3 linked regions of the Homo sapiens genome follow. Changing the gene in region 2 together with the main gene of any one other region gives a genetic interaction. Each region holds a gene or a part of one and is shown on either strand. Other genes may lie near its edges. The genes, in order: INTS9, MTA1 and MCM2.

Region 1 (3,649 bases), on a different chromosome or scaffold from region 2:
TTCATGAATAACTGAAATGTAATATGAATACTCACAATTTTCTGAGAATATCCCACCAGCTGGATTTTACTAAGGGCAGAGTTCACCTCTTGCATTGTATAGCATCTTCTCCAGGTTGAGACTTCCACTGCATCCTTGAGAGGAGAAGGTAACAGCCTGCAAATGGATCACAATGTCAACTACCAGGTGAACATTTCTTCATGTTCTACAGCATTCCTTTCTAGTAATTTGTCCATTTGATCCAAATGGTTTAATTTACTGGCATATAATTGTTCATAGGATTCCTTTATGACCATTTCTCTGTTTTTATTTTTACTTTTTTTGAGACAGAGTCTCACTGTGTCACCAGGCTGGAGTGCTATGGCGCCATCTCGGCTCACTGCAACCTCCACCTCCCGGGTTCAAGCGAATCTCCTGCCTCAGCCTCCTAAGTAGCTGGGATTACAGGCGCCCACCACCATGCCCGGCTAATTTTTGTATTTTTAGTAGAGATGGGGTTTCACCATGTTGGCCATGATGGTCTCAATCTCCTGACCTTGTGATAGGCCCAACTCGGCCTCCCAAAGTGCTGGGATTACAGGCATGAGCCACCGTGCTCAGCCATTTCTTTTTTTAAAAAAAAAAAAAAAATAGAGACATGGTCTTGCTATGTCGCCCAAAATGTGTCAACAGAAAAACGTTTTATCATTTGCTCCAAAAGAATCAGGAGACCTGAAGAGTAACTTCCCTGACATTCACTGTACAATACAGGTCCAAGTACTGGGGTGAAATGAATGCATGCCATTAGCCTCTCCTCTCTCTCCTGAAACAACACTGAACAGGGCTTCTCACACACACACACACACACACACACACACACACACACACACACACACACACTCTCACACACACACCCTTAAGACAAAGAGAATGAGAGAAGAGACAATAGCAAGGCATTTTAGAAAGTAGACAGACAAATGATAACTGACTTCATAGGCCCAGGAAAGTTCAATGCAAACGTTTAATTTCTACTGCAGAACCCACAAAAAATATGGCAACTGAAAACAACAGGTGTATCAGGAAGTTGAATCAACCTAAAAACAAGAGGAACTGTTGAAAAAAGAGACGAGATACTTAGAACCTTCCAGATCTCCTCATTCCTTCCATATAGCTCAGCAGATGTCCCTTCTCCTCTCAGGTATGCTACCAGAGGTTGTTCTCTGGAGGGAGTAAAAATGAAAGTCTGGACTACGGGAAACCATCAACTGAGACAGCCTTCCTAAACAAAAATTTACAGAGGAACAATGTTCCTCTCCTCATTTGGCTGCCAAAGCACTATGAGTAAGCTTATTCCCCTCAGGGTAGGGGGCTGAAAGAATCTTCTCTGAAGAATCCGATCAGCCTCAAAGAAAAAAAATTAATGAAAAGATTCTAACGCAGAGGATTCCACAAAGAAACAGCTCAATCAGATTACTTTATGGTAAAGTGTGGAAGTGAACAAGTCCTACCCATGGCACATAGACTTTCTAATTAGTTTTTTTAATCGTTCAACTCTTAAACATGAGCCAATAGCCAAGGACTACCATAAATTTGAGAAAAGTCTCTAAAATAATAAAGGCCTCAAGTGGGGGCAGAGGAGCAGGCAGGGAAATTAGAAGAAATAAATTAGGCAGGTAGAAGAAAACTTTAAGAACAGCTTGTCCTTACTATCGTTAGAAAAATAAGATAGTATAGCTAAGAAATGAGAAGAGATTGCTACAAAATAAAAGATTAAGAGAATAAAAAGAGCTGTTACAAATTAGAAATACAATGTCATATAGAGAGTGAAAGCATGCCAACAATACACCAGAATTTCAAATAAGCTAAAAAGATTTAAAAGTTATACAAACGTGAAAGAGGTACATACATGAAAAACCAGCAAAGCTTATAAATGAGGTGACAAAACTCAATAAAGAATTAGAAATAAAAGAAAACATCATTTTGGAAATGAAGACTAAACTACATGTTGACCATCCCAAATCTGAAAACCTGAAGTCAGAAATGGTCTAAAATCTGCAGCTTTTTGAGGCAAACATGACGCTTAAAGGAAATGCTCACTGGATTACTTTGGATTTTGGATTTGGGATGCTCAATCAGCAATATTCCAAAATCGGAAAAAGTCTGAAGTCTGAAACACTTTGGTCCCAAGTATTTCACATAAGGGACACTCAACCTGTAATAGAAACACAAGAGTAGATTAATAAAAAATACCAAAAAGAAATGAAGAGATTTAAACAATTCAAAAGAACCTAACAAATGTTGAAGACAGATAAGCAAGATGCCACATAAGGGAATCTTATGTGGCATCACAGAAAACCAAGTGAGAATAATAATTAACACTCATAATATTCAATTACTAAATACTATAATTGCTAAAATGAAGAGACACGAAACTACACACTAAAAGAACACAGTGTACACTTGAGAATACTGACCCAGAACAATGAACAACAGACATATTCTGGAAAATATTTAGACTACAAGCAAACCTTTGGGATCTAGGAAAAGAACAAGTGACTTACAAGGAAAGAAAATTAGATTTTATCAGTGTTTTTAATAGCAATGTTTAATATTAGAAAAAAATATGAGAACATATTTAAGATACTCAAAGAAAGAAAATGCATGCCAAGGACTATATATCTAGCAAAACTGACTTTCTTTTTTTTTTCCTTTTTTAAAAATTTTATTATTATTATACTTTAAGTTTTAGGGTACATGTGCACAATGTGCAGGTTAGTTACATATGTATACATGTGCCATGCTGGTGTGCTGCACCCATTAACTCGTCATTTAGCATTAGGTATGTCCCCTAAAGCTGTCCCTCCCCCCTCCCCCCACCCACAACAGTCCCCAGAGTGTGATGTTCCCCTTCCTGTGTCCATATGTTCTCATTGTTCAATTCCCACCTATGAGTGAGAATATGCGGTGTTTGGTTTTTTTGTTCTTGCGATAGTTTACTGTGAATGATGATTTCCAATTTCGTCCATGTCCCTACAAAGGACATGAACTCATCATTTTTTATGGCTGCATAGTATTCCATGGTGTATATGTGCCACATTTTCTTAATCCAGTCTATCATTGTTGGACATTTGGGTTGGTTCCAAGTCTTTGCTATTGTGAATAGTGCCGCAATAAACATACGTGTGCATGTGTCTTTATAGCAGCATGACTTATAGTCCTTTGGGTATATACCCAGTAATGGGATGGCTGGGTCAAATGGTATTTCTAGTTCTAGATCCCTGAGGAATCGCCACACTGACTTCCACAATGGTTGAACTAGTTTACAGTCCCACCAACAGTGTAAAAGTGTTCCTATTTCTCCACATCCTCTCCAGCACCTGTTGTTTCCTGACTTTTTAATGATTGCCATTCTAACTGGTGTAAGGTGGTATCTCATTGTGGTTTTCATTTGCATTTCTCTGATGGCCAGTGATGGTGAGCATTTTTTCATGTGTTTTTTGGCTGCATAAATGTCTTCTTTTGAGAAGTGTCTGTTCATGTCCTTTGCCCACTTTTTGATGGGGTTGTTTGTTTTTTTCTTGTAAACTTGTTTGAGTTCATTGTAGATTCTGGATATTAGCCCTTTGTCAGATGAGTAGGTTGCGAAAATTTTCTCCCATTTTGTAGGTTG
Region 2 (3,649 bases):
GCGTGATCTCGGCTCACTGCAACATCCATGGGCTCATTTTTAAGGTATGCTTGGTACCAGGAGCCGCTGCCGCTGCCCTGGTTTCCTCCCCTGTGACGACGCTGCTGTGAGGACAGCCTGGCAGGGCACGGACGGGAAGGGACGCGTGGTCCCCTCCATGCCCCAGGGGTCCCCCAACCGCACAGATCTGCAGACCCTCCTCCTAATGGCACCCACAGAGCTCAGGCCCTGACCGTGAAAGGGCTCTGGGGGCAGGCGGGCACTCGAGCTCCTCAGGCCACCGGGCAGAGAAAGCAGCAAAGCCCACGCCAGGCCGGATCACGGGGCTGCAGTGCTGAGGCCCGCCCCAGGGAGGCTGCCGGGCGGCTCTGAGGAGCGGTCACCTCAGACCCCTCAGGTGCGCTGCATGGCCCAGGCGGGAGCAGCCTAGAGGGTGGTGCAAAGCCCATAGAAGCAAGCCTTGGGGCCTGGGCTCGGGGGTGCCGGGGGCACATTGGTGGGGCGGGTGGGGTATAGGGGCGAGGTGCTGGGTGGCCTTGCACTATGAGGGTGGCCCCAGCCTCCCTGGGCTTGGCTCCATCGCCACCAAGATCCCCCAGTCCGCACACTCAGACATGAGCCCACCGGGACAGGAATGGAGCAGGCCAGCTGGGGTGGGGGTGGGGGTGGAGACACCAGCAACACGAGAGCCCCAGAAAGCAGTGAGCCCAGGTAGCACACGAGGAAAGACATTTGGAGAATATTAAATGCTCTGCCGGGCATGGTAGTTCACAGCCTTGCAAACCCAGCGGCACTTTGGGAGCCCAAGGCAAGAGGATCGCTTGAGGACGGGAGTTCGAGACCAGCCTGGGCAACATAGTGAGACTCCGCCTCTATAAAAAATCTTAAAATTAGCTGGGTATGGTGGTGTGCACCTGTGGTCTCAGCTACTCAGGAAGCTGAGATGGGAGGATCGCCTGAGCCTGTGGGGTGGAGGCTGCAGTAGCTGTGATGGTGCCACTGCACTCCAGCCTGGGCAACAGGAGACCCTGTCTCAAAAAAAACATAATTACATGCTCCCAAGACAGCCTGCTGGAGTCTAAGGTAGGGTCTAAGCTGCCCCCCAACCAGGTCTCAGGGTGGGCTCCTCCTGGGGAAGGGGGGCCACCCTCCCTAGCAGGACTCAGCCCATAATCTGGCAAGAGCACTCCAAGTTCAGCAGGAGGAGGAAGGAGGCCCTGCAGCCAGTGCTCCCCCAAGCCGCCTCCCGGGTACCTGGCCAGGCACACGGCACCTCCTCTGGCATCCCAGCCTCACCTGCTGACCAGCGTCCAGATGCGCAGCTGGGGACCCACCTCTAGGTAGGATGCCTGCAGGGCCACTGCAGCAGTTTTGACACCCAGAACCCACACACACGGGCGGGAACGGCACTGCCAGGGCGGGTCGGGCGCGAGGGATGTGCTTCATTGGACCATATATTCCAACATCTCTCACTGACAGCTACTTTTTTATTATTCTGAGAGCTTAACGATCAAATTCTCCACTCAGAACAATATGGGGCCAGGCACCGTGGCTCACGCCTGTAATCCCAGCACTTTGGGAGGCCGAGGCGGGTGGATCACTTGAGGTCAGGAGTTCGAGACCAGCCTGGCCTAGATGGTGAAACCCTGTCTCTACTAAAAACACAAAAACTAGCCAGGTGTGGTGGTGCACACCTGTAATCCCAGCTACTCAGGGGGCTGAGGCAGGCAAATCACTAGAACCCAGGAGGCGGAGGTTGCAGTGAGCCGCGATTGTGCCACTGCACTCCAGCCTGGGTGACAGAGTGAGACTGTCTCAAAAACAAAAAAAAAAGCCAGACGCAGTGGCTCACGCCTGTAATCCCAATACTTTGAGAGGCTGAGGCGGGTGGGTCACAAGGTCAGGAGATCGAGACCATACTGGCTAACACAGTGAAACCCCGTCTCTACAAAAAAAAAAAAATTACAAAACATTAGCCAGGCATGGTGGCGGGCGCCTGTAGTCCCAGCTACTTGGGAGGCTGAGGCAGGAGAATGGTGTGAACCCGGGAGGCGGACTTGCAGTGAGCCCAGATTGCGCTACTGCACTCCAGCCTGGGGGACAGAGCGAGACTCCGTCTCAAAAAAACAAAGGTGGAGCAAGCCAGGAGTGCTCAGTGGCTGAGGCAGGAGAAGCTCAGTGGCCCATCCTGCCTGGAGAGTGAGCCAGGGCTGCCAATGGCGCAGTGCTGAGGCCGATCCTCACAGGCCAAGTGGGACAGCCCCATGCCATCCCCTCCAGGACATCACACCTGGGCCCCTGCCACTTCTACCACTCCCGCTCCTGGTGCTCACAGGACGGCCGTGTCTCCAGGGCTCTTCCCTGCCTTCTTGGAAAAGATGGGTGGGACCCCAAAAGTCGGCCCATGGAGCAGCAAGTGCCTAGGGACACGGTGCACTCAGCACTCCAGGGTAGGGCGGCGCTGGCTGCAGCCCTCTACAAATCTGACATTTTTTTTAAGTTTACTTTTTTCCCCACTGGCAAGTATATAGAGCAATAAAGTTTAAACTTCAAAAAAACACTAGAATAAAAATACAAAAGCAACATTTCTAACAGCGCGCCAGAGCGCAGATGATGGCACATGCCAAGCCCAGTGAAGACCAGCAGCACGGACAGGGTGCTTCCGCCCAGGCTGCGCCAGAGACCGGGGCAGAGCCCGCGGCCCTGCAGGGGCAGGGGCTTTCTGGCATCCTTTCAAACTACATTAAAATTTTTTTTTTTTGATACGGAGTCTCACTCTGTCACCCAGCCTCAACTTTTATTAAAATTAAAACAAAAAGGCCGGGCATGAGCTCACGCCTGTAATCCCAGCACTTTCGGAGGCCGAAGCGGGTGGATCACTTGAGGTCAGGAGTTCCAGACCAGCCTGACCAACATGGAGAAACGCCGTCTCTACTAAAAATGTAAAACTTAACCAGGCCTGGTGGCGCCTGGCTAGTCCCAGCTACTTGGGAGGCTGAGGCAGGAAATCGCTTGGGCCGGGGAGGCGGAGGTTGCAGTGAGCCGAAATCGCGCCTCTGCACTCCAGCTTGGGCCACAGAGCAAGACTCCATCTCAAAAAAAAAAAAAAAAAAAAAATTAAACAAAAAAAATCCAAAAGATGGGGTGTTAACCTCTTGCAATGAAAAACAGAAACACCCAAGGCAAAATGGTAATGGCCTGTCCACTGAAAAGCAGAAGCCCCACATGAGCAAGCTGCAGGCGGCTGGCAGGCACCGATTCCTGCTGTCCTGTTTTGGATGCTATCTAACATCTTCATGTTCAACCCAGAGAAGAAACATCCCGCCGTTGCCCTGGGGCCCTCTCATCCCACAGCAGGTTTCAAGCCTTCCCCAGCCCTCGGGATGGACAACCCTTGAGAAGCAGAGGTCAGGGAACCCTGACCCCGCCACCCTTGCCCAGGCCATCCGCTGCCCTCACAGGCACAGACAGAAGGCCTCTGTCCGTGGCCAGGGCACTCCATGGGGAAGAAACAGGCCCTGTTCCCTCCCTGCTCACCACTTCACCCAGCTCAGCTGGCACAAAAATACTGCCACCACACCTTCACCCTGCCTAGCCCAACCTGGCAGGGCCTCGGAGTAGCCTGCCAGCTAAAATACGGGTTGCCCAG
Region 3 (3,649 bases), on a different chromosome or scaffold from region 2:
AAGGGCTGAGTGTGCCCTACAAGGGTGACACTCTTTCAACAAGACTGACTACACTGACCATGTGCCAGGCAGTTCTGGGTGTGGGTGGCAAACCAGACAATGGGACAGAGTCCCCACAGGGCTCATCTCCACAAGGGGACAGGAGACAAATAGTCTTAAAAATTAATTATGGAAAGTAATGCTCAGAAGAAAAATAGAGTGATAGGATCAAGGGACCAAGGAGATGCCTCTAGCTAAGGGTGCCCGGCAAAGCCCCTCCCTGAAAGACAGGGAGCTGAGATGACGACAATGAGATGCAAGTCATGTGACAGTGTGGGAGAGCGTCTGCCAGGAGCAAGGAGCACAATCAAGCCCCAAGGCTCGGCCCTTTTGAGAGAGAAGGGCAGGTGCAGGTGCAGGTGAGGGAAGGGAGCGAGGAGGAGGTAGCTGCAGAGATGGCGGGTGCGGGCCGGAGGGGAGGACCCTGGATTCTATTCTGATGACAGCAGAAAGCCTCAAGCAGTTGTTAAGGACGGGGCTGATCTGATTTATGCCTTCAACTGGAAGACAGTCTACATGGGTGCCAGGAGGCCAGTTCAGATGATGGTAGTGCCTCAAGTCAGAGGCAGAAGTGAGGGAGGTGGGTAGGCTCAGGAGTTGGGACAACAGGATTTGGTGGATTGTGGGTTATGTAGGGTGGGGGTCGGGGGTGCTGTGAAGGAAAGAGAAATCAGGGCGACTTCTGGACATGAGAAGAGACCGAGGGAACAGGACTAGAAAACAGCCTATGGCCCCTGCAGCACCTGTCCCCTGTGTTGGGCACACTGTATGACCCCAAGCCTCACCTGAGGTCCCCAAACCACAGTTCATGGAAACCGGGCACATGTGAGCTATACCTGGACTGGGTCCACGGTGTCCCTCACCACACACAGGATGTCAAAGCGTGAGATGATGGGCTCTGTGAGGTCCACGTTCTCAGAGAAAGTCAGCGAGGGGTCGTAGCGCCCTCCTGAAACACAGGGGAGCACCTCCATCAGGGTGGATTCCCCTATCCTCCCATCTCAGGGACCCCAGGCTGCTCTGATGGCAGAAGGGGATGAGGGCAGTGGAAGAGGAAGACATAGGTGGGTACTTAGCACCTGCTGTCTGAGACAGCAAAGAGCTTACCCTAACCAGGGCCCAAAATAGCCTAATTTAGACAGAAAGCATAACTGCTTCCCCAGGAGGAAAAACCAAGAACACAGTGGGTGACAGAGCCTGGGTTCTTTTACGCATTCGCTGCTGAGACCAACAGCCAACTCCATCCTGGCCAGAGGGGCACTGGGCTCTCCTCCCATGCCTTCTGAGAACATCCAAGGTGATTCCAGGAACATGACTCAACAGGAAACCCAGGTGTCCCAGGTCCCACTTTCACTGTTCCCCACTCTGGCAGGATATGCAGAAGAGGGGAACCCTCTGCTGCACAATGACTTCCTCAGATCGGCTCCTGGGGACCCCGTGGGCTCCCAATTCAAGCAGGCGGGACCTCCCTGTGTCCCACCCCAGCCCCAGCAGTCAGGGTGCCTGCTGCACCTATGGGGTTGGCGGCAGCAATGACCGTGCAGCGAGCCTGCAGGGAGGTGACGATGCCAGCCTTCGAGATGGAGATGCTCTGTTGCTCCATGGCCTCATGGATGCTGGTTCTGTCCTGGTCATTCATCTGCAAGATTAAAATGGCCCACCCTTAGCATGGTTCACGCCCCTACTACTAAGTCTCCGATGAGGTCCCAATGGACCCCATTAACACCATTCCCGTCGCTAAGGCCCAAGCCCACACACACCCCCTGAGTTCCACCAGCCTCCGTGACCCAGGGACCCACCTTGTCAAATTCATCAATGAGACACACTCCTCGGTCAGCCAGAACCAGGGCCCCAGCCTCCAAGGTCCACTCCCTGCTGACAGGGTGCCGCTGGACATACGCCGTGAGGCCCACAGCCGACGCCCCCTGGCCAGTGGTGAAGATGGCTCGGCTGGACACTTTCTCAATATACTTGAGAAACTGCGACTTCGCTGTGCCAGGGTCTCCGCACAAGAGCACGTTGATATCACCACGTACCTTGTGCTTGCCACCTGGAGGGGATGAGTAGAAGCGGGGGAGGGGGAGAGTGGGAAGTGAGAGGAGGAGGGCACAGTTGCATCCCCCACCAATTCCTCAACCTACTTGTTAGGAATGGTAAGGCACAGTCCCTCTAGAAAGGGATACAATGCCCTACGCCATGCAGTCCCACTCTGGGCACTCCCAGGGAAACACACACGGGTGCAGAGGAGGGTTGCACGAGATGTCCTTGGCGAATGTGAAATATCAGAAACAATCTAAGTGTTCTCCAAAGGGAGAGCTAAATAAACTGCGTTATCTGGTGGCATGATAGTCATTTAAAAGAAGGCAATTGCTCTGTATGCACTAACAAGAAAAGATGCTGCAGTGTGGCACTGAGCGGGAGAGCTCGGTGGGATGCACTGCGCACAGGCACAGCACTGGGCACACACAGGGGACGCTGCGCTTGTACAAATAAACACGTGTAGTCATGAAACCCTGTGGTTGCTGTGTAATTGTAAATGGCCACAAAGGGAGGGACTAGGAAGAGAAGTGGGGGTCAATGGGGAAATCAGCCTCACCCATGACTTTTAGTGTTCTATAAAAGTGTAATATAAATACAAACTCATGTGTCAATAGTATTTTTGTACTTAAAACAGGTTTTTAAAAGACAAAGTATTTTTTACATAGAAGAGAAGCAAAGACTCATTTGCTTAAATCACAAAAGCAGGCAGACACTGGCTCCCTGACCAACAGCCCAACACCCAGAATGCCCAACTCAGGGCCACCCTCTCCCTTGAAGAATGAGTCACGCCCAGCCAGACCATCTTTTAATGCATTCTTTCTCCCCAGCACCCAGGCTTTAAAAACACTGTGTCCTTCTTTGAATGCTGGCTCCCCAAAGAGAAAGCTGCTAACACCCCTGCAGAGGAAAGGTGGGTGCTCACCTGGGTTTTTGGGCTCCCCTCCGAACAGGGCCAGAGCCAGGCCTCTCTTGATGTCTTCATGACCATAGATGGAAGGAGCAATGCTGGCAAAGATCTGAGAAAGGGAGGGAGACCGACAAGAATGGGAACAGATACTCACAGAGTAGGTCACCCACATGCTCTGGCATCAGGGAACCACGACATCCCCAGCTCAAAGACACCCACTTCCACAGCTGCTGCAACTGCATCAGGCCCTGGTATCAAGCCGTGCCCGACTCTAAAGCTTTTCATTAGTTGGCTCTTCCCAAGAGTCACAGAACTTTGGAGTTTAGAAGAACCTTCATCTGAACCCCTAATCTTGACATATTTCAGAAAGGCCTTTCCCAAGATCACAGACCAAGAGCAGAAATAAGACCAGAACCAGGTCTGTCATGGCACTGGCCTACCTCAAGCCTCAGTTTCTTCATATGGAAAAGAGAGATGGCAACATCCAACTCACAGAAGGGTGGGTACAAATGCGACAGTTCATGCAAGTGCCTGCCTCGTCAATGCAATAAATGTGGCACATCTGGGAGATGTGTCCACCAGGAAGTAATTCCAACTAGTGAGTCACTGGAACATTTCTATTTCAGTGTGTGTGTGAGAGAAAGAAAGAGACAGGGAGAGAGC

What was found.
Region 1: changes in MTA1 (region 2) and INTS9 together harm fitness more than expected from each alone (negative genetic interaction), as found in Homo sapiens cells (one large-scale study listed by BioGRID).
Region 3: changes in MTA1 (region 2) and MCM2 together harm fitness more than expected from each alone (negative genetic interaction), as found in Homo sapiens cells (one large-scale study listed by BioGRID).

What each region holds. Positions count from the first base shown.
Region 1 is NC_000008.11:28,813,457-28,817,105, forward strand, and holds part of INTS9 (integrator complex subunit 9), read right to left. Parts: intron 157-3,649; coding exon 36-156; intron 1-35. UniProt on the Homo sapiens protein: Component of the integrator complex, a multiprotein complex that terminates RNA polymerase II (Pol II) transcription in the promoter-proximal region of genes.
Region 2 is NC_000014.9:105,422,684-105,426,332, reverse strand, and holds part of MTA1 (metastasis-associated protein MTA1), read right to left. Parts: intron 1-3,649. UniProt on the Homo sapiens protein: Transcriptional coregulator which can act as both a transcriptional corepressor and coactivator. Acts as a component of the histone deacetylase NuRD complex which participates in the remodeling of chromatin.
Region 3 is NC_000003.12:127,615,308-127,618,956, reverse strand, and holds part of MCM2 (DNA replication licensing factor MCM2), read right to left. Parts: intron 3,096-3,649; coding exon 3,002-3,095; intron 2,090-3,001; coding exon 1,839-2,089; intron 1,679-1,838; coding exon 1,552-1,678; intron 989-1,551; coding exon 876-988; intron 1-875. UniProt on the Homo sapiens protein: Acts as a component of the MCM2-7 complex (MCM complex) which is the replicative helicase essential for 'once per cell cycle' DNA replication initiation and elongation in eukaryotic cells.